4 separate regions of the Homo sapiens genome follow, and regions 2, 3 and 4 are each linked to region 1. Evidence: fine-mapped expression QTL. A gene starts in region 1. Each other region holds a variant in brackets. All regions are shown on one strand. Distances are from middle to middle.

Evidence for each region.
Region 2: its variant is fine-mapped to the expression of CCDC170 in testis (GTEx, PIP above 0.99).
Region 3: its variant is fine-mapped to the expression of CCDC170 in whole blood (INTERVAL, PIP above 0.99).
Region 4: its variant is fine-mapped to the expression of CCDC170 in whole blood (INTERVAL, PIP 0.96).

The regions. Positions count from the first base shown.
Region 1 is chr6:151,490,611-151,498,718 of GRCh38, reverse strand. It overlaps CCDC170 (coiled-coil domain containing 170), which reads right to left and starts at 4,702. Exons shown (of 11, transcript NM_025059.4): 1 at 4,534-4,702. The coding sequence starts at 4,590. LOC124901436 (a long non-coding RNA gene) reads left to right here and starts at 513. Exons shown (of 2, transcript XR_007059817.1): 1 at 513-583; 2 at 1,655-2,312.
Region 2 is chr6:152,235,728-152,243,835 of GRCh38, reverse strand. It overlaps SYNE1 (spectrin repeat containing nuclear envelope protein 1), which reads left to right. Exons shown (of 146, transcript NM_182961.4): 107 at 1,396-1,596; 108 at 4,130-4,303; 109 at 6,888-7,019; 110 at 7,533-7,729. Among named protein-coding and RNA genes, the nearest start is that of SYNE1-AS1, 140 kb to the left of the region's middle. The variant G/A (reference allele first, on the strand shown) is at 4,420.
Region 3 is chr6:151,575,675-151,583,782 of GRCh38, reverse strand. The region is part of intron 6 of CCDC170 (coiled-coil domain containing 170); the gene reads right to left. Among named protein-coding and RNA genes, the nearest start is that of CCDC170, 86 kb to the right of the region's middle. The variant A/T (reference allele first, on the strand shown) is at 4,871.
Region 4 is chr6:151,451,204-151,459,311 of GRCh38, reverse strand. RMND1 (required for meiotic nuclear division 1 homolog) reads left to right here and starts at 7,186. Exons shown (of 12, transcript NM_017909.4): 1 at 7,186-7,296. DCPH1 (damage control phosphatase 1) reads right to left here and starts at 6,846. Exons shown (of 5, transcript NM_024573.3): 1 at 6,726-6,846; 2 at 4,659-4,764; 3 at 740-984. The coding sequence starts at 6,766. RefSeq lists silencers at 3,224-3,518, 6,489-6,608 and enhancers at 3,153-3,910, 6,769-7,218, 7,409-7,458. The variant C/T (reference allele first, on the strand shown) is at 4,527.

The DNA of each region.
Region 1 (8,108 bases):
CTAGAATAGTCAAATACAGTCTGATTCCACTTATACAGCATGCCTAGAATAGTTAAATACAGTCTGATTCCACTTATACAGCATGCCTAGAATAGTCAAATTCATAAAGAAAGAAAGTAGAATGGTGGTTGTTAGGAGCTGTGGGGAGGAGGAAATGTGAAGTTATTGCTTAATGAGTACAGAGTTTCAGTTTTGCAAGATGAACAAAGGTTTGAAGATGGCTTGTGGCAACAGTTGCACAACAATGTGAATGTACTTAATGCCACTAAACTGTACATTTGTAAGTTAAGATGGCAAATTTTATGTTATATGTATTTTATATGAGGTTTTTAAAAGTAGAAATGATGGGAAGAAAAAGGAAAACAGACTTTAACTCCTTTATAGTTAGCTATGACCAGCTCTAAGTCCTTTGTTTTGAGGAACTATAGCTGCTGATAGAGTGTGTTGCTATTTACATTTGCTTCTCATAACAATTCTGTTGATAGTTATTCTAATTAACCCTTGTTTTACAGAAAGGAAAGAGATGCTCAAATTCCCAACAATGGTATCTACTGGAGCTGTAACTTTGATCTAGGTTTTCCAGGTATGTGAAAACACTGCCACAGCAAGAGAGCCTACAAGCCACCATATGTCTGTGGCTTCTCACTGGTGTCAGAGGATTTGGAATCCAAGCACTTTCCACAGAACTATTGCTACAGCTTTTTGCTGACTGGTGATCCTATTTTATAATTAGGTCACTTTTCTTTTTTTTTTTTTTTTTTTTTTTGAGATGGTGTGTTCAGTGGCACAATCTTGGCTCACTGCAACCTCTGCCTCCCAGGTTCAGGCAATTCTCCTGCCTCAGCCTCCCCAGTAACTGGGATTACAGGCACCTGCCACCAAGCCTGGCTACTTTTTGTATTTTTAGTACAGACGGGGTTTTACCATGTTAGCCAGGATGGTCTCGAACTCCTGACCTCAAGTGAGCCTCCCGCCTCAGCCTCCCAAAGTGCTGGGATTACAAGCATGAGCCACCGCACCCAGCACATTTTCACTGGGTAGCGTTATTTCAAATGCATGACAAAGTTATGCAGTCTTACTGAAAGCTATGTTTGTAAACTTCCCCCAAAGCATATCTCTTTCCTTCATGTTTGGGCTGCTCCACTTCAATTCTCATAATATTGCTGTTAGTATTTGTCACATTTTCCATCCCAGTAAGGCTGTGCTGGTGATCGCATTATAGGTAAATCCAACTTGAGAAGAGTGCAGCATTAAATTTTAGTGTTGATGAAGGAGTAATCTTTTTATGTGTCTGTTTTTCTTGATTGTAAACTCTTTTTTAATTTTTATTTTATTTTTGAGCCAGGGTCTTGTTCTGTTGCCCAGGCTGGGGTGCAGTAGTGCGATCAAGGCTCACAACAGCCTCAACTTCCTGGGCTCAAGTGATCCTCCCACCTCAGCCTCCCAAGTAGCTAGGACTACAGGCCATGCCTGGGTACTTTTTGTGTTTTTTGTAGAGACGGGGTTTTGCCATGTTGCCCAGTCTGGTCTTAAACTCTTGGGCTCAAGCGATCCACACACCTCTGCCTCCCAAAGTGGATTGTAAACTGTCAATTCTTCATTATGAGCAGGGTCAATCTCCAATTCATTTTTGTATCCTCTGTCCCTCCTACAGATTCTCAAAACACTGACTATTGAGATGGTGGCTGAAGTACTGATGGAAGCATTGGTGATGATGGTAGGAGTAGGTGCAGTGGTGTTGACACCAAAGCAAATTCCAAAAGTTACAAAGAATAACGATAGCTAATATTGATATGCACTTATTCTGTCAGACACTCTCTTGAGTGCCTTACATTTATTAACCGTGAAATCCTCAAACTACGTTATGCGATAAGTTTTATGATTCCATGTTTTAGAAGAAAAAACTAAAATGCTGATACATTAATTGTTTTGACCAAGATGTCACAGATGAGTGGTATAATCAGGATTGTTTGAATCTAGTTTTGAGTCTAAAACTAGTATCTCAGTCTCTACAGTATTTTACTTTTCCAGAAAGTTGCAGACTATCACTGCTTTGTAATTTAATGTTTTCAGTCTGGCATGGTAGGAAAAGTACAAAGCTTTTGAAAGAAAGATACAAGTCCCTGCTCCATCATTTCTAATCCAGTAAGCTATTTCCTCATCTTATATAGTGAGAAATTTCTGCCCCGCCTATCTAAATTATAAGATGATCTCAGATAAAGTATTTTGCAAACTGAACATTTAATTGTAATAAATGCTGCCTTTTCTGCAGCTACTTTTGTTCTCAATAAAATTTAGTTATTTTAAGCCAATTAAAATCTCATGCTTAATGGACATTTTCCTTTTGTAGGCAGTGACTTATGCTAAAAATTTCTATCCGAATCAATATTATTACTCAACTAATATGATTTCTTATTTATTGCTAAAGGGGAAAAATCTGGCAGAGGCCACCAGCTGGGGACATCACCAATAATGGGATAAGCTGATATATGCCCCTCCTGATGTGATACTCTGAGACATAACATCTCTTATGTTATTCCTACCCAAAAATCTAATCACGAAGGACAATCAGAGAAACTTACTCTATAAAACGAATGACCTGGACTCTGCAAAAATGTCAGTATCATCAAAGACAAAAACAAACAAACAAAAAAACAAACAAAAAAAATGTGAAGAACTGTTCCAGGTTTGAAGAGACTGGAGACATAACTAAATACAGTGTGTGATCCTGAGATGGAAAAAAAATTGGCAATAAATGGCATAATTGGGACAAGTGGCAAAGTTTTAGTAGGTCGTGTATATTAGATAATATTATTGTCACAATGCTAAACATCCCGATTTTGATCATTGTATGTTCGTTAGAGAATGCCCTTATTCATAGGAGATAACACACCAGAGTATTTACAGATGAAAGGTCATAGGGGACCAGGCATGGTAGTGCATCTCTGTAATCCCAGCACTTTGGGAGTCTGAGGCAGGTGGATCGCTTGAGCTCAGGAGTTTGAGACCAGCCTGAGCAACACGATAAAACTCTGCCTCTGCAAAGAACACAAAAATTATCCAGGCATCATGGCATGCCTGGAGTCCCAGCTACTCTGGAGGCTGAGGTGAGAGGATCGTTTGAACCCAGGGGTGTCAAGGCGGCGGCGAGCCGAGATCGTGCCACTGCACTCGAGCCTGGGTAACAAGGTGAGACCCTGTCTGAAAAAAAGAAGAAAGAAAGAAAAGGAGGGAGGGAGAGAACAAGAGAAAAAAAGGAGAGAGAAAGAAAGAATCATGATGGCTGTAATTTACTCTCAATGGGCTCACCAAAAAAAATATATATTAATAATATAAAAATACCACATACTTATGTATGGTTAAGACACCACATTGGGATAAAAATTAATAAAGTCAAATATGAAAATGTCAGATGAAAGAAAAAACATCTAGTAACTGGCCTCTGAGTTAGAAAGAAAGAAAAAATAGTTTTATTTGCACACAGTGGTACTTATTTTCCACAAATATTCCAGGAATCAGAGAAATCTAAATACAGGTCAGATGTAAAACAACAATCAAAGCTGCTGAATATTAGAAGAATTCCGATGGCACGTTGGAGAATCCAACTCATGTTTTGAATCCACTACATCCCCCAGGGATATCTATGGTCAGTACACAGCGTGGTAGGAAAAGTCCAAAACTTTGGAAAGAAAGAAAAATCCTCCATCATTTACTAATTGGGTGAGTTACTTGCGGTTAGCAGTTGAGCTGAACACAATTCCCCCATCTCTGGCAACTACTCCCAATACACACGATACCCGGTGGGCCCCGATGCCAAGGCCAAAGGGGGATTCTTAACCCAGACTGAGCCAGCCAGATCTTCTTGTGCGCCCAAGTATGCATATGCCCGTGTTCGTGTGTGTGCGCGCCCGTGTTTGTTCGCGTATGTGCCTGTTCGCGTGTGTGCACGAGCGTCTGTGTATGCGCGCATGTTCGTGTGTGTGTGCGCGCGCGCATTGGTACATCTAATACCTGAAAGTCCCCAGTACCTAAGTAACTCCTGGGAGTAAATGAGTAGATGCATTCAGGAACAACTGAATTACCAACGTTTCTGGATTACTTCGCAACGAAAGGGCCGGTGACTCTACTCCGGGCTGGCCCTCCTCCTGCCACATCAGATTTTCCAGAAATTGCTCCGAAGCACACTTCAGTAGCTAAGCAGGGAAAGTTAAATGAAGGAATTCTTTGCTCCCAGGGGTGGCGGGGAGGAACTGCCCGGCCACAGTCTTTCGAATGTCACCGGTTTAAATGGTCAGAGAAGCAGAGTGGCACAACCTAAAATTCAGACGCGCTCCGCAAACTCCGGTCCTGCCCATCCCCTCCTGAAATCAGCGCCCTGGCAGTCCCAGGCCACAGCCCTCGCGGGCACAGAGCTGCTCTGATTCTGCCCACGCCTCCGGGAGGAAAAGGGTGCAAATCAGGGGCGCCTCGGCCCCTCCTGGGTCGTCTATCCCCAGGGCCACCCCCGCGCGCGGCCGGCGGCTGGGACCGTACCTCGGGCGCTGGCGAAGCGGCACCCAGCGCGATATGGCTGGTGCAGTCCAGGCTCATGACGACCCGAGCCCGGGGGCGCGCTCGGACCCGGAACCGGCCCTGAGGAAGCGGCGGCGCCGGGAGCCGGCGGGTGGCGCGGGTGTCTCCTCGGGCAACGGGTAAACACCGCGGGGACGCGGCGGCGCGCGGCTGCGCGCGAGTAGGGTGGCCCGGCCGCAGGAGGCCGGGGTGGACCCCGAACCCCCGAGCGTGGCCTCCGTGGCGAGGGCCTGCAACTGAGCGGCCGAAACTGCCAGGGCGACCTGGGGGGAGTCGGCGGGGATAACGGTCGGTCCTCCCGGTGGGACTCTGCAGTGAATGCAATTCCAGGCCTCATCCTTATGTCAGCGATAAATACAGCCAGTGGGCACTGTGAACGGTGCTGGCGCGAGTGAGGCATAGGAAACTTCACAAGGGTGAACGGAGCATTTATTTAGCACACACTGTGTGCAAATGTGTCTGCGAGCGTGCAACCTGTGCAGGTCCGGGTCCTGCGCTTGGTTTAATACTCAGCTGTCCCAGTCTTGACGTTTTTAGGAAGTTTTGAACAAGGTGTCCTGCATTTTCATTCTGTACCGGGGTCCACAAATTATGTAGCCTGCCCTGGTGTGCGTTCTTTCATTTCACCTTCTCAACAACCCTGCCTGGAAGTACGGGTACTAGTAATACCAGTGTTAGTAACAGCCACAGCTGCTCATTATGAAATACTCGTGCTCGTCCATGCACTGTTCTAAGTGCTTCCCACGTATGATCAATCTCCTTAAATGAAACAAGATTATGAAGTGGATGTTAGAATAATCCATCTGCAAGACAAGGCAACAGTCACAGGGAAATAAAATAAAATTTCCAAGATGTACAGGGTAAGTGGTAGAATGAAGATCAGGCTCCAGATCATAACACTAAAGCACAGAGAAGATGAGTAACTTGTTTAAGGTCCCACAATTTGTAGCAGAATCTGAAAATGGAATCTGCATTCACCTCACTTTAAAGCTTTTGGTGGGCCAGGCGCGGTGGCTCACTCCTGTAATCCCAACACTTTTGGGAGGCTGAGATGGGTGGATCACTTGAGGTCAGGAGTTTGAGACCAGCCTGGCCAAGAAGGTGAAACCCTGTCTCTACTAAAAATACAAAAATTAGCCGGGCGTGGTAGCGGACACCTGTAATACAGCTATTTGAGAGGCTGAGGCAGGGAAAATCATTTGAACCTGGGAGGCAGAGGTTGCAGTGAGCCAAGATTGAGCCACTGCACTCCAGCCTGGGTGACAGAGCAAGAATCTGCCTCAAAAAAAAAAAAAAAAAAAAAGAAAAAAGCCTTTAGTAGACTCCTATGCTGTTTGAGACACATGAAATCAAACAGGTGGGAGGATTGCTTGAGGCCAGGAGTTTGAGACCAGCCTGGGCAATACAGCAAGACTCTATCTCTACAAGTTTTTTTTTTTTTTTTTTAAATTAGCCAGGCATGGTGGTGCACACCTGTAGTCCTAGCTACTCAGAAGGCTAAGGCGGGGCCAGGTGAGGTGGCTCATACCTATAATCCCAGTACTTTGGGAGGCTGAGGCAGGTGGATCACCTGAGGTCAGGAGTTCGAGACCAGCCTGGCCAACATAGTGAAACCCTGTCTCTACTAAAAATACAAAAATTAGCTAGGTGTGGTGGCACATGCCTGTAATCCCAGCTACTTGGGAGGCTGAGGCAGGAGAATCGCTTGAACCTGGGAGGCGGAGGTTGCAATAAGCTGAGATAGCACCACTGTACTCCAGCCTGGGTGACAGAGCAAGACGCCATCTTAAAAAAAAAAAAAAAAAAGAAAGCTAAAGCAGGAGGATAGCTTTGAGCCCAGGAGGTCAAGGCTGCAGTGAGCTATGATCACCACTGCACTCCAGCCTGGGCGACAGAGCAAGAGCATGTCTCTAAAGACAACACAAAAAGGCAAAATCAGAGCTATGGCAGCTTTTCTTGGATTCCATCAGTCATCCTATGTGCATTCATATTGACCCTGAGGATTTCTTCATCTGGACAATGGCTTTTGAGCTCACGGTAACTTTGCCATATATCTAATCCAGAATCATCTCAAGGCTTTCACTTGATGCACCGTTAAAGAAAAAGTTCTTAATGAAAACTTAGGCTTTCAGAAATCTCCTATTAATAGTACAATTTGGAGTAAACACATTTTTAAGTTGTAGTTTTTCCTTGCAGTAGAACCACTACAAACTTGTCAAATTTTCTTTTCTTTTTTTTTTTCAAACAGAGTTTCGCTCGTTACCTAGGCTGGAGTTCAATGGAGCGATCTCTGCTCACTGCAAACTCCGCCCCCTGGATTCAAGCGATTCTCCTGCCTCAGCCTCCCGACTAGCTGGGATTACAGGCATGTGCCACCACACCCTGCTAATTTTGTATTTTTAGTAGAGACAGGGTTTCACCATGTTGGCCAAGCTGGTCTCGAAGTCCTGACCTCAGGTGATCTACCTGCCTCCACCTCTCAAAGTGCTGGGATTACAGGCGTGAGCCACTGCGCCCGGCCAAACTTGTTAAATTTTCAATGAACCAACACTGCCAGAGGAAACACAAAATTGATGAAAACTCAAGACACCTGGAAGAGAACCAGATGGAAATCCTTCTCCATTAACTCTAATCCAATTGTTTAAGAATCCCATGTCATAAAGCCTAATTCTGCTCAGTTTGGTCAACCTTGTAGCTCTTATTCATGAGAATAGAAGATATAAATTTGCAGTCTTTAAAAATCAGCATGAAACAGATTTTTCTCTGTATAAAACAATGTGATTTTGTGGTAACTGGAGGCAGAAAAAGTACTTGGCTCAGCCCTCCCCAGATGCCTTTGAGATTTCTGGGATATCAAGACATGAGCCAAGTGACTCTTCAAGCAGCATCTGATGATGTGATGACGTCAAAGAAGTTGAGCTGGGGGGACCCCGAGGTCTGGACCTTGGAGGAGATGACGATTTGGGCTAGCTGGGACCATGGTGGTAGAACATTTCAGGCTGGGAGTTGGAGGGGGGCGGTCTCTAGGTCTGATAACAGTTTAAGCAAAGGAGGGAAGAAAAAATGTACAAACAAGTTCCAGTCCAGACCTCTCACAAAACCCCGTGTGTGGGCAGCACCGTGTGGCCCACAATACCTCCGTACAGACCTCTGTTTTGGAGTTTTCTTGTGGTGTCGTAAGTTTAGAACTCTGGTTTCCTCCTTTTGCTTGTTTGCTTGTTTGTTTTACAGATGTACATGTTTCTCACGGGAACATTTGTAATATGATAACTTTTGGAGCTTTTGACTTCCGATTGAAAACTTGTCACTGAAATCACTCCTATGACATTTTAATTGTCTAAAGGTTGTTTAAAAGAGTAGGCTTAATTTTAGTATTTTCCTAAACACTTGCTGTGATCTAAATGTTGGTGCTCGCCACCCCAAATTCATTTGTTGGAACCTAATACCCATTGTGATAGTGCTAAGAAGTGGGGCCTTTGGGAAATGATGAAGTCATGGGGGCACCACCCTCATGATTGACATTAGCCCTTCTAAAA
Region 2 (8,108 bases), 750 kb before region 1:
ATCAAGAAAAAATTGTGTACAACTGTGTACAGTCACACAGACACACATGTTAGATTTTCTCTGTGTGCAGAACTATTGAGAACTGGTAACCTCAGTCCAGTACAGGGTTGTGAGTTCTTTCTTTGAGAAAATAAAATAGACCTTATAAACAAAAGAACATTTTTATTTTAACTGTATCTGTCCTTTATCTAACATTTCATAATATCATAAGCCCACCTCCCCCACTTTGTACTTTTTTAGACAGTTTTCCGACAGCACTTAAGCATCAGGTGTAAGAGTCAAATGTCATTGCCGTAAATAGGCATTAAAATTGAACTCTTCCAGATTGAACCATTTTGGCCTGCTAAACCTTAATGTGATATGTTAATCAGGTCCGTATGCCTCAAATAAATTTTGTGTTTGGTGTGTCATCATCTCCTAAAATGTCTTTCCAGTTTAAATAGTTATATACTCCACCACATTTGGCAAAAATATTGCCTTCTTAAGTTTGAAACTCTTTCTGCTCACATTAAACTCCCCTATTTCTCTAGCTCTTTGTTTGAGGGGTAGTCCCAAATATGATTGTTATTTAGCAGGAAAATGTTAAGGATATTATATTCAATTGCTCTGAAATTATATGAATGTTGAGAATACTATAAAAATGGGAATTACATTTTCTATGACATGTCCCTCAGCCACATGGACAGTTTTTCAACAGTTTTACCCCACATCTTATCATAAACTATTGATATCCTGAGAAAACAGTTGTCAAATCTACCTCATGTATCATTTCTAGGAAACACTTTTACATGTCCTTTAAAATCTTAAAATATTAACCTTATTTTTTATAGACATATCTTTATTTCCTTTCATATTTTAACTTATTAAATTTTTATTTTGTAATCAATCTAAATTGCATTTTGATATGTGGCATGAGATAAGACTTTATTTTTCTTCAAAGAGTTGAGTTGTTTCCACATTATTTATTGAATATTTATTTTATCCTTTCAGTGACTTCATACTTACATTTTTATGAATTCAGTTTTTTTTCAGTTTCTCCGTTGTGCTTTATTGTCCGTTAGAAATAAAATAAAATTTAAAACAGCAAGATAAGAATACCAAATAAGATTAATGAAAGAACTTGAACCACCAGGTATCAAGACACAGTAAAGTCACAACGAATATCATAGGCATGAGAATAGAGGTCCAAAGGTCATTTCTTTGTGAAACATGTTTTCAAAGTAAGGCTCATAGAAAGACAAGCAGATGGCCTACAGGTAGAGCGTTTCCAGGAGGCACATCCCTGAAGGCATTTTCTTGGTTGGGTCTCGGGCTTGGTGCGTTCATAGTTCATATGCTTTTAGAGGGTTGCCAGAATATGAATTGAGAGTGAGTCTTGTGGTCTCTGCTTCTTAGGACATGTATGATGAGCTGATGATGATCATTGGCTCCCGGAGGAGTGGTCTGAATCAGAACCTTACACTCAAGAGTCAGTATGAGAGGGCCCTACAAGATCTGGCTGACCTGCTAGAAACTGGTCAGGAGAAGATGGCAGGAGACCAGAAAATCATCGTGTCTTCCAAAGAGGAAATCCAGCAACTACTTGACAAACATAAGGTACATAACAAAAAAGAGTGATAGAGAGAAAATGTAATTGGAAAGCATGCTCTCAAACCCTGATATATATTTAGTAAAACCTAATATTCTCAGTCTTTTATGAGTTCTTACTTGTATAAGTTATTCTTTAAAAATGGCCAAAAAATTTATATTCAAACCCACTGGCTTTCAGTAGCACAGAGAAATTATAGGGGATATGTTTCTATAATGTTGTAAATTAAAAAAGAAAACCAACTTACCTGTAATTTTACCTATCAGTTCCTCACTAGTATTAGCCAGGCTTTCTCCCTAGATGAGCTAAAATCAAAGGAAAACTCAGAGCCTCTCTTCAAAGGAGCCCATCTTCATTCTTAACTCCACTTTTCCCTGTGTTTCCTTTTTGCCCATTTGTCCACCTGGTCCCAGTTACCCTCTTTGCCCTCCCTTGTCCTCGTCAAGGACTCCTCGCTCACTCCTTGCTCTCCTCTAGAAATGCAGAGCTGACTACTCAGATCCAGGGTTGGGTTGGTGTCTTTTACATGCATTGTTTAGATCCTCTGACCCTTACACATATGCTCCTCTAGTTGCTGTAGACTTCAGACTTTCTCCCTGGGAACAGCAAGGCCGTTTACTATGTAATCAAACTTGGGAGGCCCGAAATCACTCCATCATTGTGTGCCACAGCCAAGCTCAGGTTGGACACTACTCCATGGTAGAAGAATGCGTATTTCACACACACACACACACACACACACACACAGCTCTTGCATTATTGGCAATGATTACGAAAGCAATTTTGCCAGTCCAGAAACCCAGCCTTCTAGACTATGGGAATTTCCTGTAGGGAAACTAAAAAAATCCCATTGGGTTATAGAAGTTTAAAATCTTCTACCATTGTGTAGCTCTCTGGTGGCTTGTAAAGGTGGGTTTTTTTTGTCTTTTTCAAATTGTCGTTCCTATTTTTTCCCAGACGTTTTTGTCCAAAGCTTCATGATTTATTAAAACCTTATCATTTGGCTTTGAAAACATTGCTTTAAAGTCCACAGCTGGTGTTTCTCACGTTGTTGACCATAGCAATAAAAGATCATTCTGAGTTATTCCAGAGGGGAAACTAGGATCAATGAGTATAAATAACAGGGAAATAAACCTCAATAGAAAAAGAACTATAAAAGGAGTAAGCTGCCATTGAGCAGACAGCCCTTCTGGCCATGAGAAGTCCAGCCAAGGCTTTTAGGGGAGATGGGCTTGTAAAAGGAATCTCAGCTTTCATTGCATGTTGGGCTAGATGAACTTCAAAGTCTCCTCCAACTTTAGGACTCTGATTTGGTAATTGTTGGTTAAAAATAATGATTCTAGCTTCTACTCACCAGCCCATTTTCTGAGGGAGAGTTCTGCAGTGCTGGTGAGAAGCACAGATAAAGCCACACTGCCCTTGGGTTTGAACCCCAAGCTCTGCCGTGACTAGCTATGTGACCTTGGGCAAGCTACATAGACTGGGGGGACTCAGTGTTCTCATCTGTAAAACTGGAAACAAAACTGCCTATCTCATAGAGTTATAGAGTTGTTAGGAGGATGAGATGAGTCAGATAAAGTATTTATGGAGTGCCTAGCAAACAGTAAGCACATAATTAATGTTAACTGTCATTATCAGTTGCCAGCTCTTCCATTTTATCATGGTACTGGGAACAGGAAATGAGATAAGCTCAATCTCCATTCTCCAGGGTCTATTATACACAAACGGTAACATTTCAAAAACATTAGTAGGATGGCGCAAGGCCTACAGTTATGTTATGTGTAGGTATAATACAAGGAAAGCAAATTTATAATATCAATCAGTGCATATAAAGCTGTGCTTGACAACATGGAATGAGCACGCAAATATCCTAGAAGTTCAGAAAGTAGAGCCCAAGCCCAGCCATGGAGGAAGGAAAGCAATGTTTTTTGTTTGTTTGTTTGTTTGTTTGTTTTGAGATGGAGTCTCCAACCAGAGCTCCAACTGTCCTGGCAAAGAAAAACTCAGAGCCTGTCTTCAAAGGAGCCCACCTTCGTTCTTACCTCTACCTTTCCCTGTGTTTCCTTTTTGCCCCTTTGTACACCTGGTCCTAGTTGCTCCCTCTGCCCTCCCTTGTCCTGGTCAAGGACTCCTCGCGCACTCCTCACTCTCCTCTAGAAATGCAGAGCTGTCTACTCAGCTCCAGCGCTGGGTTGGTGTGAACTCCTCTCCACCCAGGCTGGAGTGCAGTGGCACGATCTTGGCTCACTGCAACCTCGGCCTCCCAGGTTCAAGCGATTCTTGTGCCTCAGCCTCCTGAGTAGCTAGGATTACAGGCACACACCAGCATGCCCGGCTGATTTTTGTATTTTTAGTAGAAACGGATTCCACCACATTGGCCAGGCTGGTCTTGAGCTCTTGACCTCAGGTAATCCACCCACTTCAGCCTCCCCAACTGTTGGGATTACAGGCGTGAGCCACCGCACCCGGCCCTAAACCAATTTTGATTCTAACATAATATATGAATGAGTTGCTGACTTCTTTCTTCCTGAAAAATTGCAGGAATACTTTCAGGGCCTGGAATCTCATATGATCTTGACTGAAACACTCTTCAGAAAGATAATCAGCTTTGCAGTCCAAAAGGAAACCCAGTTCCATACAGAGCTGATGGCTCAGGCTTCTGCTGTACTGAAACGGGCTCACAAGAGGGGTGTGGAGCTGGAGTACATTCTAGAGGTGAGACCATTGATGTCATATCTTCTGTGCTGCAAACTTCCTGCTGCAAAATAGACCTTTAATGCAAGATGTATCTATCCATGCAGTTTGCCTCACATAACCTCAGAACTAGCTGC[G/A]CTCTCGGGCTCAGGACTGCACTTTTCCTATGGTTCTGTGTTGCTTATTCCCCCTGTGTTTTCTGTGTACATTGGGCTATCTGCTGTGCCATGTCGAAAGTAAGATAGATACACACTGACTTCAGACTATGCATGAAGATATTTGGGGTTTTGATATTCAGACTGATAGCTTACTTAAGAGTATGAAAAATGTAGAAATAGGCCAGGTGCAGTGGCTCACACCTGTCATCCCAGCACTTTGGGAGGCTGAGGCGGGTGGATCACTTGAGGTCAGGAGTTCGAGACCAGCCTGGCCAACATGATGAAACAAACCAACATGTTGAAACCCCGTCTCTACTAAAAATACAAAAAATTAGCCGGACGTCGTCGTGGGTGCCTGTAATCTCAGCTACTTGGGAGGCTGAGGCAGGAGAATCACTTGAACCGGGAGGCAGTGGTTGCAGTGAGCCAAGGTCACACCATTGCACTCCAGCCTGGGCAACGGGAGTAAAACTCTGTCTCAAAAAAAAAAAAAAATGAAAGTAAAATGTAGAAATATTTTTTTCTGTCCCAAATGCGGTTGCTCTTGGAACAGAGTAGTGCTCAGTGGTGGCTACTGGCAAGCTATAGAACCCCGTGGAAATGTAGGACATTATTGATGGAACAGTCCCCTTTCTTTCTTCAGTAACTGTACCAGTTGCCCTAAACTGTTCCTGCTTTCTCATTCTTCCTCTTTCCCTTGGAAGTTTTAGAGATTATAATCTCTCTCCCCTTTGTGGACTTCCCCACCCACTCCCACAATATTACTGATCTTAACTGGGTTGCCTGCAGGTCGTATTTGCATTTTTTCTAAATGGGATTTTCCCTGGGCCAACATTTTCATAGGTAGCTAACCCCCAAATCCCAGATGTGGAATTCCCTGATGTGGAATTCCCTATATTTTGGAGAGACATCTACCTTTAACGTTTGAAATCTCTGTAATAATAGTTACACTTTATTGACATGTCAGGTCCCTGGCAAGACTTCTTACATTTACATGAATCCATCTCATCTTTATCATAACCCTTTGAGATAGAATTTTGAATCCCTGTTTCAGCAATGAGTCTGGGAGCAACTGTTTGCCAAGACACGTGGTTAATTGGTGGCAAAGTCAGAGATCACACCTTCATCTGTCTGACTTCACGACCTGAAATGTGTGTTTCTCCATGAAACTTACCTGATGACACCATTTAAATTGTAGCCCCACCAGGCACACACCTGGGCACTCCCTCCCACCCCTACCCAGTTCTGTTTTATTCTTCCACAGCACAAGAACTCTATTATACCATACAACTTATTGTTTGTTTTTGGTTTATTGTTTATTATTGATTGCCTGTCTCTCCTCACTAGAAGGCCTGGGTTTGTGTCTGTTTTATTTACTCCCAGATCCCTAGGCATTGAAAATACCAGGCAATAGATATTTGGTAAGTGTATTTAAAAAGCATGGGTTTCTACTACTGTGCCCTGTTGCCACTCCAACTGCACAGTGAAGTGAGCATACTCACACTGAGAAACTGCTGACCCACAGCGTAAATTACTGGAAAAGACTTCAACTGATCTTTTAAAAAGTGTTTTCCAGTTTTAAATAAAATAAAAGTCTGAACTTAGGAATAAGTGATGTGGTATTTTTCTTTAACAGAATATATAAACTATATATTCATATTTATAGATATGTTTCATATGCAAATGTAATTGATTTGTTTACTCGTTACATGAAAGGCAAACATCCCCATCCTTTTGACTTAAATCCTTACTGTGGTAAAGAATAAAACCATACATACCTGGGCTAGATGTGGTGGCTCATGCCTGTAATCCCAGCACTTTGGGAGGCTGAAGCAGGAGGATCTTTTGATACCAGGAGTTTGAGACCAGGCTGGACAACATAGTGAGACCCCCATCTCTACAAAAAAATTTTTTTTAAGTTAGCCTGGTGTGGTGGAATGCGCCTGTGGTCCCAGCTACTTGGGAGGATGAAGCAGGAGGATCCCTTGAGCCCAGGAGTTCGAGTCTACAGTGATCCATGATTGTGCCACTGTACTCCAGCCTGGGCAACAGAGTGAGAGCCTATCTAAAAAAAAAAAAAAAAAAAAAAGTGCATACCCAATAGAAGGTACACTGCATACATTATTCCATTTAATCCTCATGATGGAGAAGATAGCTATTATTATCCCCATTGTAACGTATGGAAAAGAGGTACAGAGTTTAGTAGCTTACTCACAGTTGTAAAGGGGCTTAGTGGCAGATTCCAGAGCCCATTCACAATGCTTTCAAGGGTCACCATTTGATTACTTGCTTTAAAGCCATCTTTTGCTTCCCAAAGCAAGGCCCAACGCAAACATCTCTGATATAACTTTAAGGAGAGACTGTCAGGCACGTATTTTGCACCCAAGGAAGAATGTCTTTCGCTAATGAGGGTTTTTTTAGCTCACAGACTCATGTTGTGTTTCTAGACGTGGTCCCATCTGGATGAGGACCAGCAGGAGCTCAGCAGACAGCTGGAGGTGGTGGAAAGCAGCATCCCAAGCGTGGGTCTGGTGGAGGAGAACGAGGACAGGCTTATTGACCGCATAACACTCTACCAGGTTGGTGTTACAAGCCGCCACATTGCCTTTAGAAACTTACCAATAGTTTTAACAGAATGTAAACAAACTTGTGATCAATTATTTTATTAGTACTTTTACTTTTCTTTCAAGTTATTGACATTGAAAGGAGATAATGTTTCTGTTATTTATAGTTGGACATTATTAAAAGTCTTTCTTTTTTCTTTTTTTTACTGAGAGCTCTTTTTGAAAATTCAGCCTCCACCAAGCATTTTCTGTAGTTTATGCTGATGCCACACAATTCTTGAAATAATAATTTGACAGTTTTAAATCCACCTAAAGTCATTACCAAAAAAAAAATAATAAACAACAAAAGGAGACTGTCTATACTTAAATATAGATGAAACATCTTAAAGTTTTCAATGTTACTTGAGTGAGTATAGTTTAAGTTTGAATAACAGGTAATGGGAACATTGTAGGTACCAGAGAAATTATAATTCTTAAAGACAAAAATTGCATATCCAAACTTTTAACTCAATAATTTCAATATTTTAGCATTTAAAATCTAGCCTTAATGAATACCAGCCCAAATTATATCAAGTATTAGATGATGGGAAACGACTTCTGATATCCATCAGCTGCTCAGATCTAGAAAGCCAACTAAATCAACTTGGAGAGTGCTGGCTAAGTAACACCAATAAAATGTCTAAGGAACTTCACAGACTGGAAACAATATTGAAACACTGGACCAGGTAATACAATGACTGTTTTGTATATTTTTAGATAAGTGCTGCATTGTATTAATAAGGCTAGTGCGGGTGGGGGATGATGGCTCAAACCTATAATCTCATTACTTGGGTGGCCAATACGGGAGGACTGCTTGAGGCCAGGAGTTCAAGACCAGCCTGGGCAACATAGTAAGACCCCAATCTCTACAAAAAAATTACAAAAGGACTAGGTATGGTGGCACATGCCTGTGGTCCCTGCTATTGGAGAGGCTGAAGTGGGAGGATTGCTTCAGCCTGGGAGGTTGAGGCTGCAGTGAGCCATGATCATGCTACTGTACTCCAGCCTGGGCAATAGAGTGAGACTGTGTCTCAAAAATAAATAAATAAATAAGGCAAGTAGATA
Region 3 (8,108 bases), 85 kb before region 1:
AGTTTTCAAATGAAAGGAAGAGTCAGGCTGGGCATAGTGGCTCACGCCTGTAATCCCAGCACTTTGGGAGGCCAAACTGGGTGGATCACCTGAAGTCAGGAGTTCAAGACCAGCCTGGCCAACATGGCGAAACCCCATCTCTACTGAAAATACAAAAATTAGCTGGACGTGATGGCTCATGCCTGTAGTCCCAGCTACTTGGAAGGCTGAGGCAGGAGAATCACCTGAACCTGGGAGGCAGAGGTTGTAGTGAGCCAACATCACGCCACTGCACTCCAGCCTAGGTGACAGAATGAGACTTCCATCTCAAATAAAAAAAAGCGAAGAGTCGCACTTCTCTCATTTTAACTCAAAAGATGGAAATGACTAAGCTTAGTAAGAAAGGCATGTTGAAATCTGAGATCGGCCAAAAATTGGGCCTCTTACTCCAATTAGCCAAGCTGGGAATAGAAAGGAAGCGTTCTTGAAGGAAATTAAAAGTGCTACTCCAGGCCAGGCACGGTGGCTCACGCCTGTAATCCCAGCACTTTGGGAGGCCAAGGTGGGTGGATCACCTGAGGTCAGGAGTTCAAGACTAGGCTGACCAGTATGGTGAAACCCCATCTCTACTAAAAATACAAAAATTAGCCAGGCGTGGTGGCAGGCGCCTGTAGTCCCAGCTACTCAGGAGGCTGAGACAGGAGAATCACTTTAACCCGGGAGGCAGAGGTTGCAGTGAGCTGAGATTGCGCCATTGCACTCCAGCCTGGGTGACAGAGCAAGACTCCGTCTCAAAAAAAAAAAAAAAAAAAAAAAAGTGCTACTCCAGTAAACACACTGATACAGTGTGGATATTTGTCCTCTCTAAATCGCATGTTAAAATTTGATCCTCACAGTTGGAGGTGGGCCTAGTGGGAGATGTTTGGTTCATGGAAGCAGATCCTTCATGAATGACTTGGTGTCATTCTTGCAGAATTGAGTGACTGCTCACTCTTAGTTCCCATGAGCTCTGGTTGTTGAAAAGAGCCTGGCACCTCCTCCTCTCTCTCCCTTTCTTTCTCTCTGGCCATGTGATGCCTGCTCCCCTTCATCTTCTGCCATGAGTGAAAGTTTCTTGAGGTTCATTGCCAGAAGTAGATGGCACTGTGCTTCTTGTATAGCCTGCAGAACCATGAGCCAAATAAACCTCTTTTCTTTATCAATTACTCAGCCTCAGGTATTCTTTTATGGCAACACAAAAGGACTAAGACACACACAAATGATAAGAAAAAAAACAGCCTTATTGCTGATATGGAGAAAGTTTGAGTGGTCTGAATAGACATCAAACCAGCCATAACATTCCCTTAAGCCAAAGCCTAATCCAAAGCAAGGCCCTAACTCTCCTTAAATCTATGAAGCCTAAGAGAGGTGAAGAAGCTGCAGAAGAAAAGTTTGAAACTAGTAGAGATTGATTCATGAGATTTAAGGAAAGAAGCCATCTCCATAACATAAAAGTACAAGATAAAGCAGTAAGTGCTGATGTAGAAGCTGGGGTAAGTTATCCACAAGATCTAGCTAAGATCATTGATGAAGGTGGCGACACCAAACAACAGACTTTCAATGTAGGCAAATCAGCCTTCTATGGGAAGAGGTTGCCATTTAGGACTTTCATAGCTAAAGAGGAGAAGTCAATGCCTGCCTTCAAAGCTTCAGAGAACAGGCTGACTCTCTTGTTAGAGGTTAATGCAGCTGGTGACTTGAAGTTGAGGCCAGTGCTCATTTACCATTCTGAAGACCCTAGGCCCCTTAAGAAATATGCTAAATCTATTCTGACTGTGCTCTAGAAATGGAACAGCAAAGCTGGATGACAGCACATCTGTTCACATCAAGTTTTACTGAATATTTCAAGCCTACAGTTGAGACCTATGGCTCAGTAAAAGATTCCTTTCAAAATATTACTGCTCATTGACAACATACCTGGTCACCCACGAACTCTGATGGAGATGTACAAAGAGATGAATGTTGTCTTCACAGCTATTAACACAGCATTCATTCTGCAGCCCATGGATCAAGGAATAATTCTGACTTTAAAGTCTTATTATGTAAGAAATATACTTCATAAGGCTACAGCTGCCATAGAGAGTGATTCCTCTGATGGATCTGGGCAAAGTAAATTGAAAACCTTCTGGAAAGGATTCACTACTCTTGATACCATTAAGGACATTCATAAATCATAAGAGGAGGTCAAAATAACATCATAGGTGTCATCTATGAGATGATTCTGAGGGGTTCAGGACTTCAGTGGAGGAAGTAACTGCAGATGTGGTGGAAATAGCAAGAGAACTAGAATTAGAAATGGAGCCTAAAGATGTGACTGAATTGCTGTAACCTCATGATCAAACTTGAATGGATGAAGAGTTGCTTCTCATGGATGAGCAAAGAAAATTATTGAGATGAAATTTACTCCTAGTGAAGATGCTTGAACATTGTTGAAATGACAATAAACATTTAGAATATAACATAAATTTAGCTGACAAAAAAGCAGCAAGGTTTGAGAGGATTGACCTCAATTTAGAAAGAAGTTCTGCTGTTGGTAAAGCGCTATCAAATAGCTCACATGCTACAGAGAAATCTTTTGAGAAAAAAAAGAGTCAATTGTTGTTTTCAACTACGTTGTTGTCTTATTTTAAGAAATTGCCACAGCCACCCAACCTTCAGGAACCATCACTCCGATCAGCAGTAACCATCAACATTACAGCAAAACCCTCCACCAGCAAAAAGATTATGACTTGCTGAAGGCTAAGATGATTGTTAGCACTTCTTAGCAATAAAGTATTTTTAATTAAAGTATCTATATTGTTTTTTAGATATAGGGTTATTGCACACTTAATAGACTACATAGTCTAGTATAAACATAACTTTTATATGCACTGAGAAACCAAAAAAAATTGTGTGACTCACTTTATTGTGACACTTGCTTTGTCGCAGTGGTCTCTGAGGTATGCTTATACCAATTAAGAATGTTGCAATGCAGATTGAAGTGCTACATGAGGAAGGTTAGACCACCTGAGCTCTAAACTCTTCAATCCTGTGCTTCCATGGCTCTCAAGCTTCCAGACATTCAATTAATTTAACACTTCTGTGTGTGTGCTTGAAATTAGATATTTGATGGTAAGCTATTCAGAGCCACATCCAAGGAATTACATTTACCAAGGAAATTTTTAGTGTCATCCCAGAACATGAAGCTCTGAGAAACCTCATTTCTTATTTCCTACCTTTCCTGCTTACCAATAATAAAAAATCTACTGATACATTCATAGCTATATTAGTAAGTATAACTTACTAATATAGCAGATAAATCTGATCTTAACGCAAGAGAAACAGTGTTTATCTTGGTATAACAAATAATGTAATCTACAGAAAAATGTCCACAAGATGCTGCCTCCCAAGGGACTGATTTGCATTATTAGGAGTATAGCACATCAGGAGATGTGGTTTCACGTTGGACTGCAAACAGGAAGTGAGTATTTCTACCTGAAGACCCTTCAACGTCTCCTATACCACAAATGACATAGCGGAGAGAATGAAACCAAAGAGAAAATTGATTCAATAAACCTCAAGCGGAGAGAGGGAGAACTGTGTGATCAGTTAGCCATAGTCAGCACACCACCGAATTTACTGGAAAAAAGCAAGCCTTCTGTAGACATCAATCAGTATGGTCTCCATTCTGAAGCTGATGCCCAGAGTAACTGCAGTAAGTTAGACTAAGGGAGTGATACTGACCCTAAAGGAAGATGTAAGCATCTGACGTAGACCAGAGTGCAGGACGGAGGCTTTGGAGTCAGATAGCCCTGGTTTCAATTTCCCCTGTACCACTTACTAGCAGGTTAACTGAAGCAAGTAACTAATCTCTCTGAAATTCGTAGACTTTGCTATGAAGACTCAATGAGCTGATTTAGATAATTTACAGTATTTCACACCATATTGAAGTTCAACACATCGTGTCCATTTCCGTCATCAGGGTTACTGCTCCAGTGTACTGGTTCTGTCAATCCTATGCTGTCGCCATGAGGAGCTAAAGAACCCTCCAGGAATTGTCCTATGTCATGTTTCTCAAACTATTTTCAGCATAGTCTTTCTCTCAACTAGAAGTCTTTCTAGGAAGAACAAATAAGGGACAAATGTGTTTGAATCAAAGGCAAGAAGGTCTCTCTTGCATCTTCACCCCATCTGGACCTGAGGGTGCTCTACAGAGCCTTGAGACTCAGCGAAGTGAGACTTTAAAACCACTAATACGTAGATCGCTGAAATTTGCAGGGGATACCTGCCATGCCAAGATTCTTGTGTCCAGAGAGAAGAAAACAGCTGAGAGCCCTCCTGCACTCTATCAGATCACAGAACGTAGCTTCAGAAGCTTATTTAGGTGTCAGTGCACATGACACCACTAAGTTTTTTTCTAACTAAATTTAGATAAATTAATTCAAATAAATTAACTTTCCATTCTGACTTATTCTTGGGAACATCAAATGCCAGTGCCTGAGTGAACATATGTGCTCCACCAAAACCGTAAACTTGTGCTGTTTTTCACACCAAAAAGTCTAAACAATAAATAAGCCTTTCTTTCTTTTCTTTTCTTTTTCTTAGGATCATTTCTTAACATATACCTGATATTCTATGGGACAAAATGCACCAGATATTTCAACACTAGAGGTGGGCAGTGGAGGGTGAGGGGTGAAGAATACATACCTTTAAACAAAAAAGATATTTTTTTGTTTGTGCTTTTTTTTTGAAACAAAAAGCACAATATAGTTAAAGAATAAGCTGCATGGTTTTTAGAAGTAAAGTCATAATGCCCTAAAAGATTTAATTCACTCCCCAGGGACAACTATGCATTGATTTCACCAGAGAGACA[A/T]TTTTGTCCTAAAATTAAACCAAATAGAAGCCAAAAAGTTCTACACTGAAGAAAGAGCCATTTGGGTCACTTAAAGTCCAGTTCCTTTTAGACATAAACTCTTTTCCAATTACTCAAGCTATAATTTGCACTTGGGGAATATGTAAGTTATCAGGTACTAGAAAGTGTCGACCAAATCCTCCTTCCCTTCTGTCGGCTTGTGTGACCAGCACTGTTGACTGGCTAACTCTATCCCACCTCCTCTGTTCATCTCAACTTTTGTTTTGAGTTAAATTAGGTCCCCCTCAAAAAAGATATGTTGAAGCCCCCCAGTACCTCAGAATGTGCCTTTCTTTGGAGATCGGGTCTTTAGAGTGGTGATGAAGTGAAAACGAGGTCCCTAAGGTGGACCCTAATCCCAGATGACTGAGGTCCTTATAAGAGGGGAAATTTGGACACGAAGACCGACATGCATAGAGGAAGGCAATGTGAACACACAGGAAGAACACTATCCCTACAACAAAGAATGCAATGCCTGAGGCCAGCAGAAGCTAGGAGTGAGGCATGGGACAGACTCTCCCTCACAGCCCTCAGAAGGAACCAACCCTACTGACACCTTGATGCCAGACTTCTCATCTCCAGAACTGTGAGGCAAGAACTTTCTGTTATTTAAGCCGCCCAGTTGCGGTACTTTGTCGTAGCAGCCCCAGGAAACTCATATAACTGGAGAGGCTGGAAAAGCTGAAACTTCCATCTGTTCGCTCTCTCAGATGCCTCTGTAGCCCGGAGCAACCGCACAACATAATTTTGGATAATGAAACGTCCCAAATGGAAGTGTGCTGGTGCTTCTGGGAAGATGCTCACTTTAGTAGGTGGCAGGGTTAAGAACAGAGCAGGAGAATGATAATCGGGCTCTGAGATCAGAATGGGGAGGAGGGGGCTGTGAAGCACATCTCCAGTCCTTCACAGCAGAGATCACCAGCCTTTTTGTCACCAGAGACTGGTTTCGTGGATGACAATTTTTGTGTCAGAATGAAACTGTTTCACCTCAGATCATCAGGGATTAGATTCTCATAAGATGCACGCAACCTAGATCCCTCGCATGCACAGTTCGCAATAGCGTTCACGTTCCTATGAGAATCTAATGCCGCTGCTGATCTGACAGGAGGTGAACTCAGGAAGCAATGCTCGCTCGCCCACCGCTCACCTCCTCCTGTGCAGCCCATTTCCTACTAGGCCAGGCACTGGTGCGGGTGCGCAGCCAGAGGGTTGGAGACCCTTGCTTTATAGCATCGGGGGGGGTCCCCACAGCTCCCACAGAGCCCCTGGACCAGCAAACACCTCAAGGAAGGAAATAAAGCCTTAGGTGTACCTAAAGCAGAACAGGAAAAATGTCCAGATAGAGGTGAAGAAGAAAACAAAATTGCCTCAAAATTCTAAAGTAAAATCTGAAAATGTCGTAACTTTCTGTCATTGTGCAAGAAGTCATTATTTCATAAACAACTGCTATGGTGTCCTGAAATTCCAAGGCTAAGTAACATCTAAATACTCATTTAGAATTCGTGGGAACCTGGCAGTAGAACATTCCTCTAAGACAGTGGTTTTCAACTGGGGGCAATTTTGACCCCCGGCGGACATTAGGCAGTCTCTAAAGACATCTGTGGTTGTCACAAACTGGGAAGGGGAGTGCTACTAGCGGGTAGAGGCCAAGGACGCCGCTCAAAATCCTGCAATGCACAGGACTGGCCCCCAGAGCAAAAAATTATCCAGTCCAAAATGTCAATAGTTCTGAGGATGGAAAACCTTGCTCTAAGATATAGTAAAGCTTCTAAAAAGAAGATTAGATCTTGCCAGAAGCAGATATGCAAGGAACAAGTAGAAATGACGTGCTGTAAAAGTGTGGGTGGTGTCCTGAATTCTACTGAGAATTGCAAACACAGGAGGGGAAAAATGGATAGCACAGGGGTAAACAAGACAAGCAACGTTCGGGAAGCAGGAGCCGGCCTGAAGCGGAGAATCTGCCAAGCTGAGCCTGAACCCGCCGTGGAGCCTTCACATCAGAATTACTCAGCCACTGACTGTGTGCGTAGCCATGGCAGCTGGCAGGGACATGCAGCCTCCTCAACAAACAGATTCATCAATTTGTAAAGCTCCCATTCTTTAGAAACATTTCTAAGACAATATATGAAATCCATTTTCTCCTGATTTTACGTGAAGATGAGTCACACAAGACACCAGCTATATGCTTGATTTCAGGCTTTTAAATAGGGAGGGCAGCTATTGAAAAAAATTACAGGGTAGGAATGGCAGACAAAGGCACTAAAAAGACTCTGAATCATTCTAATTTTTATGGGGAGTGGGAGAAAGCATACCCAGCTTAACCAATTTACATCATTTGGCTTTAGAAAATAAACATATACATCATGCTGATAATTATGCGCCTTGTTTGGGATTAAAGTAGTTTTAAGAAACTACTTGAAAATATAGAAGTGGAAAGCAATAAAATGAAATGGCAAAAAAAAAAAAAATTAGCTATTGAAGTACAGATGCTCCTCGACGAATGGTGAGGTTGTGTCCCAACAAAGACGTGTTAGTTGAAAGTTCCTTAAGTCAGAAATGCATTTAATATACCTAACCTACCGAATATCATGGCTTCGCCTACCCTACCTTAAAAGTGCTCAGAACACTTACATTGGCCTATATTTGGGCAAAATCATCTAACACAAAGCCTATTTTATAATAAAGTATTGAAAGTCTCATGTAATTTGTTGAATACTGAAAGTGAAGAACAGGATGGCTGCATGCACACTCAAAGTGTGGTTTCCACTGAATGTGTATCACTTTCACACCATCGTCAAGTTGAAAATTTTTTAAATTAAATTTTCATGAGCTGGAAATCGTCTGCATATCTGTTACCATTTAAGGAAATGACTTAATGAAGCTTATTTCCAAACCTATAAATCATTTTCTTTCTCAAGTACCTCCATGTAAACTGAGTCACAAGAAAAACTAAGTTACTCGCAGAGACCTCTACACATTAGAGTGGAGGACAGCCAATGAGCACTCCACATTTTATCTCCACAAAGAGATAGAAAATGCACTTGGCAGCCGGGCACGGTGGCTCACGCCTATAATCCCAGCACTTTGGGAGGCCGAGGCGGGTGGATCACAAGGTCAAGAGATCGAGACCATCCTGGCCAACATGGTGAAACCCCGTCTCTACTAAAAATACAAAAATTAGCTGGGTGTGGTGGTGCAT
Region 4 (8,108 bases), 39 kb after region 1:
AACGTTTATTATCTATTTCAATAAACAAAACATATGCTTACTTTGTCCCATCCTTATTTATATAAATGTAACTATTTCAAATTTACATTTTTTACTCAATAAGCAAAACTTCTTTTATTCTAGAAGTCTTTGTTGGAATCTTTAATTAATTCACGCTTTATTTATCTATTTTATTGAGACAGAGTTTCACTCCGGTGCTCAGGCTGCAGTGCAGTGGTGCAATTTTGGCACACTGCAACCTCTGCCTCCCAGGTTCAAGCAATTCCCATTCCTCAGCCTCCCAGGTACCTGGGATTACAGGCCCGTGCCACCATGCCTCGCTAATTTTTTTATTTTTAGTAGAGACGGGTTTCGTTATGCTGGCCAGGCTGGTCTCGAACTCCTGACCTCAAGCAATCTGCCCACCTCAGCCTCCCAAAGTGCTGGGATTACAAGCATGAACCTCAGGGCCTGGCCAATTCGTACTTTAGATATTTACTCTTATGTCTATTCTAGGCAAGTAGATTATAATTGCCAAGAATCTGTTAAATTGGTAACAGCTATAGAAATGTCCATCAGTAACATTTGTAGAAATGTCCATCAGTAACATTTGTAGAAATGTCCAACAATGCTATTAAGATTTGCTAAACTCAACCAAATTCAAGCTTCCACTGGTGCTTATTTTTAAACTTATCCTTTTACAATTTCAGAAAAAGTATAAATTATCTAAACATTTGATAGTTGATGATTACACACGTACCTCTGGATAATTGCTTCATGAATTCTTCGATACATGTAACATTCTACCAACAACCACGGTGAGTAGAACCATCTTGATTTTCCATCACTTTCATTTAAAAGACTCTGTTGATATTCTAGGTACTGATTCCATATATCAGTATCAACAAATTTCTCAACCAAGGGGATAAATGGTTTATCTGTTTGCAATTCATTCCGTAATTTAGAAAGGAGAGAGATAGCTTTCTTTTCAGCTTCCACGCCTTCCTGCAAAAATACAAGAAAAATAAATTGTGTGTGTGTGTGTGTCTGTGCAATTCCTCTAGGGTAACATATTTTTACAGACTTAAGAAGAAAAGAAAAATGTTCAAAACTACATTTTATTTCTTTAAACATTACATTTAGAACTCTTAAACTGAAAATCAAAAAACACACACAGATCTCATATGAACATAATCATGCCTTATCTACCTAAGTTCTGGCCTTTCTGTATCTTCGGTGGGATGACCATTACCACAGAGGGAAAGGAACCCCTGCCAGATTTTCCATGTCTTTCATGCTTCCATACATATTCTTCTTTCACCATTGACACCACTAGAAAAGAAACTGTGGGCTTTCTGAGGTTTCTTTTGGTAGCTCAAATTTTTTTTAACTTGTTTTCCACCAAGTTCTAGCTAGGTGAGAGATGACATATGCTGACAAACAAGGCACTACAATATTATCTCACATAACAGGCCAATTGGAGTGGGGACAAATGTAATGGGATCAGAATGAAGTGAAAATGACTTCACACCTTGGTTTTACATTAGCAAGATTCCTGCTCCATTAAAAAAAAAGAAAATGTAAGCCTAATAAGACACGTATATAATAAAATGTAGAGAATAAACATCAAGCCTGAGTATTTTTATAAGATCATTTTTATCATGTTGATATTTAGTCCCTACTTTCAGATCTGTAATTTTCTCAATATAAACATCTCTCCAATCTTTCTTTTGTTCCAAGTACAATTTATTTTGCTGCTAGAAAAAAAGATTGAAGCTTTCGAGATTCTGCAGGTTCAGAAATAGAAGAAAAGAAGTTGTAGCTGACTGTTTTGAGAGGAACTCCCCCTCCTCCAAATCTCTTCCCTAAAGTCTTAAACTTCAACTCTTTAACTATAAATTCCAACAACTGAGGTTTTACAGGGTGTCAGGCACCCTTTTACAGAAGCATATACCTAAAAAGGCTAATGGATTAATAGTGATGTCACTGCCACTTTGTTCACTTACTTGAATTGAATTCAAACATTTACTGAACCCTGTATGTGCCTGACACTAACCTCAGGGCCAGAGAAAGATGAATAAAGCCTGGTCCTGTCTCCAAGAGACACACATCTGCCAAACCAGGTAGTCTAAGGGCACGGACGTTTGACCGCTGAGGTGGGGGAAGATAGAAAACTGTGTGGCATGGCTCCTTCGGAGATAAGCCTGGCCCTGCTATAGGTGGGGGCTTAGGAAGCTAGAACACATGAGGCCCAAGGAGAGTGGCCATAGGTATAACAGAGGCATGAAAAAGGGACAGAAAGGCTACCAAAAGCAGACTTTATCTGTGTCAATTTACATCTTGTTCTGTGCTCAGTAGAGTGTGAAATGGGGGAGGGCTGGAGAGACAATAAACTCTGCCTTCAGTCACCTGGTGATTACGGGCATACAGGCCAAGTAGCAATATACTAGGACTTCATTAATTACTACATTTTAGATCACTCTGGCCGAAAAAACTGAAATTACAAAAGCATTATGGGGCCAGGCACAGTGGCTCACGCCTGTAATGCCAGCACTTTAGGATGCTGAACTGGGAGAATTGCTGGAATCTAGGAGTTTGAGGCTGCAGTGAGCTATGACTGCACCACTGCACTCTGCCTAGTAGACAGAACAAGACCCTGTCTCAAAAAACAACAACAAGAAAAACAAAAGTATTATGGTAATTTGCTTGCGTATATGACCAAATACTAAAGTGAACTATCCAAATTTGGCTAAATTATACTTGTGTGATAAAGATATGTCAGTTACCAAAATTATGTTTATGTGATAAACATTAAAACCATTCAGCAATATAATTGTCAGTGTCTAAATTAAGCCGGATTTTAGCAACAAGGAACAACAGGTAATCCCTGTGTTATGCCAGGATTAGTTTTAAACAAGACAATATAAAAGAAGTTGAAAGAAGTAGAACATTACACTCAAACTGCATGTGTGTTATCTTGCTCCATTTCAATTTGGCCAAGGAGAAAAGATCACCAACCATTTCTCTAAATTTTTGTTTTCAACTCTCAAAAAAAATGTACTGGTATATGTATGCTCTTTTACAGTCTATTGTGTAATAGAAAGATTACTGAACCTACAAGTTTAAAGACCTATGTCTAACATAACATGTGGGGAAAAGCAAGAGAGATCAGATTGTTACTGTGTCTGTGTAGAAAGAAGTAGACATAGGAGACTCCATTTTGTTCTGTACTAAGAAAAATTCTTCTGCCTTGAGATTCTGTTAATCTATAACCTTACCCCCAACCCCGTGCTCTCTGAAACATGTGCTGTGTCAACTCGGAGTTAAATGGATTAAGGGCGGTGCAAGATGTGCTTTGTTAAACAGATGCTTGAAGGCAGCATACTCCTTGAGAGTCATCACCACTCCCTAATCTCAAGTACCCAGGGGCACAAAAACTGCGGAAGGCCGGAAGGCCGCAGGGACCTCTGCCTAGGAAAGCCAGGTATTGTCCAAGGTTTCTCCCCATGTGATAGTCTGAAATATGGCCTCGTGGGAAGGGAAAGACCTGACCGTCCCCCAGCCCGACACCCGTAAAGGGTCTGTGCTGAGGAGGATTAGTGTAAGAGGAAGGCATGCCTCTTGCAGTTGAGACAAGAGGAAGGCATCTGTCTCCTGCCCGTCCCTGGGCAATGGAATGTCTCGGTATAAAACCCAATTGTATGTTCCATCTACTGAGATAGGGAAAAACCGCCTTAGGGCTGGAGGTGGGACATGCGGGCAGCAATACTGCTTTGTAAAGCATTGAGATGTTTATGTGTATGCATATCTAAAAGCACAGCACTTAATCCTTTACATTGTCTATGATGCAAAGACCTTTGTTCACGTGTTTGTCTGCTGACCCTCTCCCCACAATTGTCTTGTGACCCTGACACATCCCTCTCTCGGAGAAACACCCACGAATGATCAATAAATACTAAGGGAACTCAGAGGCTGGCGGGATCCTCCATATGCTGAACGCTGGTTCCCCAGGTCCCCTTATTTCTTTCTCTATACTTTGTCTCTGTGTCTTTTTCTTTTCCAAGTCTCTCGTTCCACCTTACGAGAAACACCCACAGGTGTGGAGGGGCAACCCACCCCTTCAATAACATAGTTATTTGGATTTTTCCTCATCCATTAATTGAATGGACAAAGTGATTTCTAAAGTCCTATTCTGCACTGAATGCTAATGAGTCCCAACTTGAATCAGTACAATGTGTCAATCAATTATAATTCATATCACTGAGCTTTGCATAGCAGCTTGAACTTCCAGGACTCAAGATCTCAAATTAGTAATATAAATACTGCAACTCAAATTAAACTTGAAATTTAAAAAGCTCTTCTAAGCAACTCAATTGCTTAGTCACTTGACTAAGTCAATTGCAAGTCTGTTGCCCAGTCACCAATTACAACATTGCATATATTAGAAAATACATTCTGAAGTCTAAATAACTGACAGAATTAATTATTGGAACACAATCATTTTCTAAATTGAAGATTGGCTGTTCTATCTTCATTTCAATGTATTA[C/T]CTTAAAAACAAATAAATACTTGGCCCATCTATTGATTTTTACATTTAAAGGAAAATTGATACCTTCAAGAACTATTTATTATGTTTCTGTTGAGAAATTAACAAAAAATTAAAAGTTAAAACAATTCTTACCTCTCCGTGTTTCTCAAAAAATTCACTTTTATGTCGATGCAATGTATCAATAACCTTAGTTAAGATCTGTGGTATTCTGTCTTTAATTGTAAGATATGCAAATGATCTAGAAAAGAGTCACATGCAATATATAACTTAGCAGCATCAATACTAGAAGACTGGCTATCTTTTAGTTTCTGGAACACTTCATGTATATTAAACTCCTCATACAACTATTAAAAGATAGACAAGTATTGTATGATTACTATATTAAGACATAAGAAAACCTGGAAAATTCGCTGGTATGTCATGGAAGCCAAACTGTCTTGGTGCCTCTAATCCCAGATTCTCCCATGGAGTCTGTTTAATCATTCTTATCTTTCCTATTCTATTGCTTTTATTTTCCTAAATCAGAAACTCGCTTAGCAAAGTGATAGGATAGGGAATGGATTAGCTTAGAAATCAAACAGGCTCTTGTCCCAGGTCTACTATCTGCTAAGTCACCTGCTTAGAAAGATGAATGAAGCAATGCATCTAAAACCACCTAAAGGGTCTAATGTGCTTGAACAACATAAAGAATTAAAGGTACTTTTAAGCCTGTTTCTCTCCATTCTGTCTATTTTCTAAGTCAATTTTAATTATTTTCAAAAATTTTCCCCTTCTCTGCCTTCTCTATCTGCACAATGGACTCCTTCCATCCTATTCTGCCCCTAAGCAAATGAAGGCGTGCTACTGTCTCTTCCCACTCAAAAAATCAGAGATTTTATAGAAGTGTTCAAGAATGAAGCAAGCTGGAGATGAAGAAAAACTTATACCTGCATTAAAAAATTAAAGATATTCTTGATTTTATTCATACAAAACCCAAGATTTACAGATTATCATTTTATATCATTCTAAGGAAATACATGATACAGGTAGAAAAAAAGCTTTATTTGGTGGAGAAATTCTGTGCAGTTTTAAATATAGAGCACAGAGCTTAGCTGACTAGTGTTTTTATCTCCAGATCACAGGAGACAATTGTTAAATTACTAGATTGTAACTTGGGTATTTCTTCAAAAGGTTTCCTCAAATGATAGCTATAGAACTTTAAGAAAAAAACTGCACACACTTTCCGACTCTGTGGTGCTTTCAGTACCACCCAAAACAGTGATTAGGTTTTAATGCGCATAATAACTACGTTGATCAGAATTTAATTTTTAAAAATCATTAATAAAAGAAATCACTAATACCTCAGAGGGTGAGCAGGAACATTAAATCAACTGTCACTTGAATTTTCCCAGGCAGTAGGTATAGTAAGTCCTTTTTTGAGATTTTACTTTAATTGGAAAGTATTACTGTTTTCCTAACTACTACATTTCCTGCACCTCTGGAACAAAGTCTCTGGCCAGGACTGGAGTGAGGCCAGAAGCCCTAGGGCGCAAAATTGAAGGAGATACTCTCTATACTTGCATGACCTGAAACAGTGACTGCCTCAATTTGGGGCCATTGGCGCCACTTTGTTGGCCTCAACCTACTTTCTGCCCAGGTTTATTTTCTTCAAAGTGTTCTCGTCTTTTGCAATATTTTGAAGTAAGGACAAATTTCAAATATAAATTTGGCCATTCGATTTATGCAAATGGATGTTATTTGCACGGTCACCCACAACTTTACCCAAGAATCAGTAGCGTGACGACTATAAAGCAAAAAACTAGACAGTTCTTACTGTGAGATTACGATTTGATCAACAACAGGGAGAAACCCGTTTCTTAATAGCGCTGAGATCCCCAACTCTTACGCAGAATTTTAACGCCCCCAAAGCGCGTCTATTAAAGTGAATAAATAAAAAGTGACCGCCAGGAACAGACCGCGAAGCTGACCCCTGTCCTGATCCTTACGAGCAGCCGCCGCGGGCAGGCTCCCTCCCCGGGGCCGCCTCCCTTCGCCTCCGAGCCAGTCCGCGAAACCCGCAAAGGCGCCCCGGAAAGCCGCGCCCGGCGGCGGGACTCGAACGCAGCCCACCGGGGAGCGGGCGCCCTCCGCTTAGTCCCCACAGGCTCCCGGCGAGGCCCGGCTTTCCGCAAAAGTGGGGAGGAGAAAAGCTAGACTAACCCCACGTCCTGTCCTGAGAGAGACGCCGGGACGACAGCCATCACTTTCCGCGATCCCGGCCGCAAAGCTCGGCTGTTCAATCGCCGCAGAAACAGAGGCGGTACCGCCGCGAAGGAGGAGCTGAGAATGGGGGTGGTGTGGCTTTAAAAAAAAAGTGCTTTTGAATAAAGAAACTTTATTTGGTGCCCGATCAAACGGCAAACAGTGGCTCGCCAGAAGACCCAATCTTCCGGGGACGAAGGCGGGGCCAGCGGAGGGCGACTAGAGGAGCGGATATGGAAGCGAGCGAAAGCCGGAAGCAGGCAAGGGACCGGGAGGTCCCAGGGCCTAGGGAGCGGAAGAGGTCGCGGCGACGCGGCTCACGTGGTCAGACAGTCACGTGGCCCGAGTTTCTCCCGCTAAGTGGGACCAGAGTTCAGTGCGGCTGCGCAGTAGCGGGGGTGGGCGGGAGCGCCCTTCCAGGAGATGGGTTGGCTGCAGTAGTGAGAGGCTGGGGGTGCGGCTCTTTCCCTGCAGTCCTGCCGAGGAAGCGTGCGTCCCTGGCGCTTCCTTCTTCTCTTCCGGCGGAGAGGTTAGTGTATTGCCTTTTCTTTAGCAGCTCGAGTGGTCCGGCTTGGAGGTCTGCGCCCTGGCTCCTGGCCGCCCGGAACGTGTACAGTTACGGGTTACGCCAGTGCGGCTGTGACCCTTTGCCTCTTACCGTGATCTTTGGTCAGCTTAGCTGGGAGTAAAAAGCACTCAATTAATGAACCCTTTTTTTGAGCCAGTGCACCGCGGTAACTGTAGAAATCGATAAAATAATTTTGAGTTTGAGGAATTGAACGGCATACTCCCAAAGATGAGCGCCACTTAGCTCTCGAATCGTAGCCTAGCTGTAATCGATTTTCTTAATTGGTGTAATTGTTCTCTAAAAGTTGAAATGTGCCCGGGAACTGAGTAACTGCCTTGTATTTCATTTTAAAAATTCGATCGAATGCCTACTATGTGCTGGGCGCTATTGTCAGGAGATATAATAGGAAAAAACACAAATCCGTATCCTCAGGGAGCTTCCATTCTGGAAGGAAGACACAAAAATCTGCCCTTTCCTCTTATTTTTTTCCTTTAGCTTTGTGTCTCACGTATTTTACTGATTTACCTCGTTTTGTCTGTCACTCCCAATGCAAGGTTCAAAAGATTCAAAAGATAGGATTTTTGTCTATTTTATTTTCAGCTGTATTGTCAGCAACTAGGACAATACCTGGCACATGATAAGAACTGAGTTCGTTTGCAGTATGAATTAATAAACTAAAAATTAAAGGTGTGCAAGTGATGTTAAACAATGGAGAAATGCAAAGTGGAGGAAGATAAGAGAATGGATGCTGGTTGTGTTTTTTTTTTTTTTTT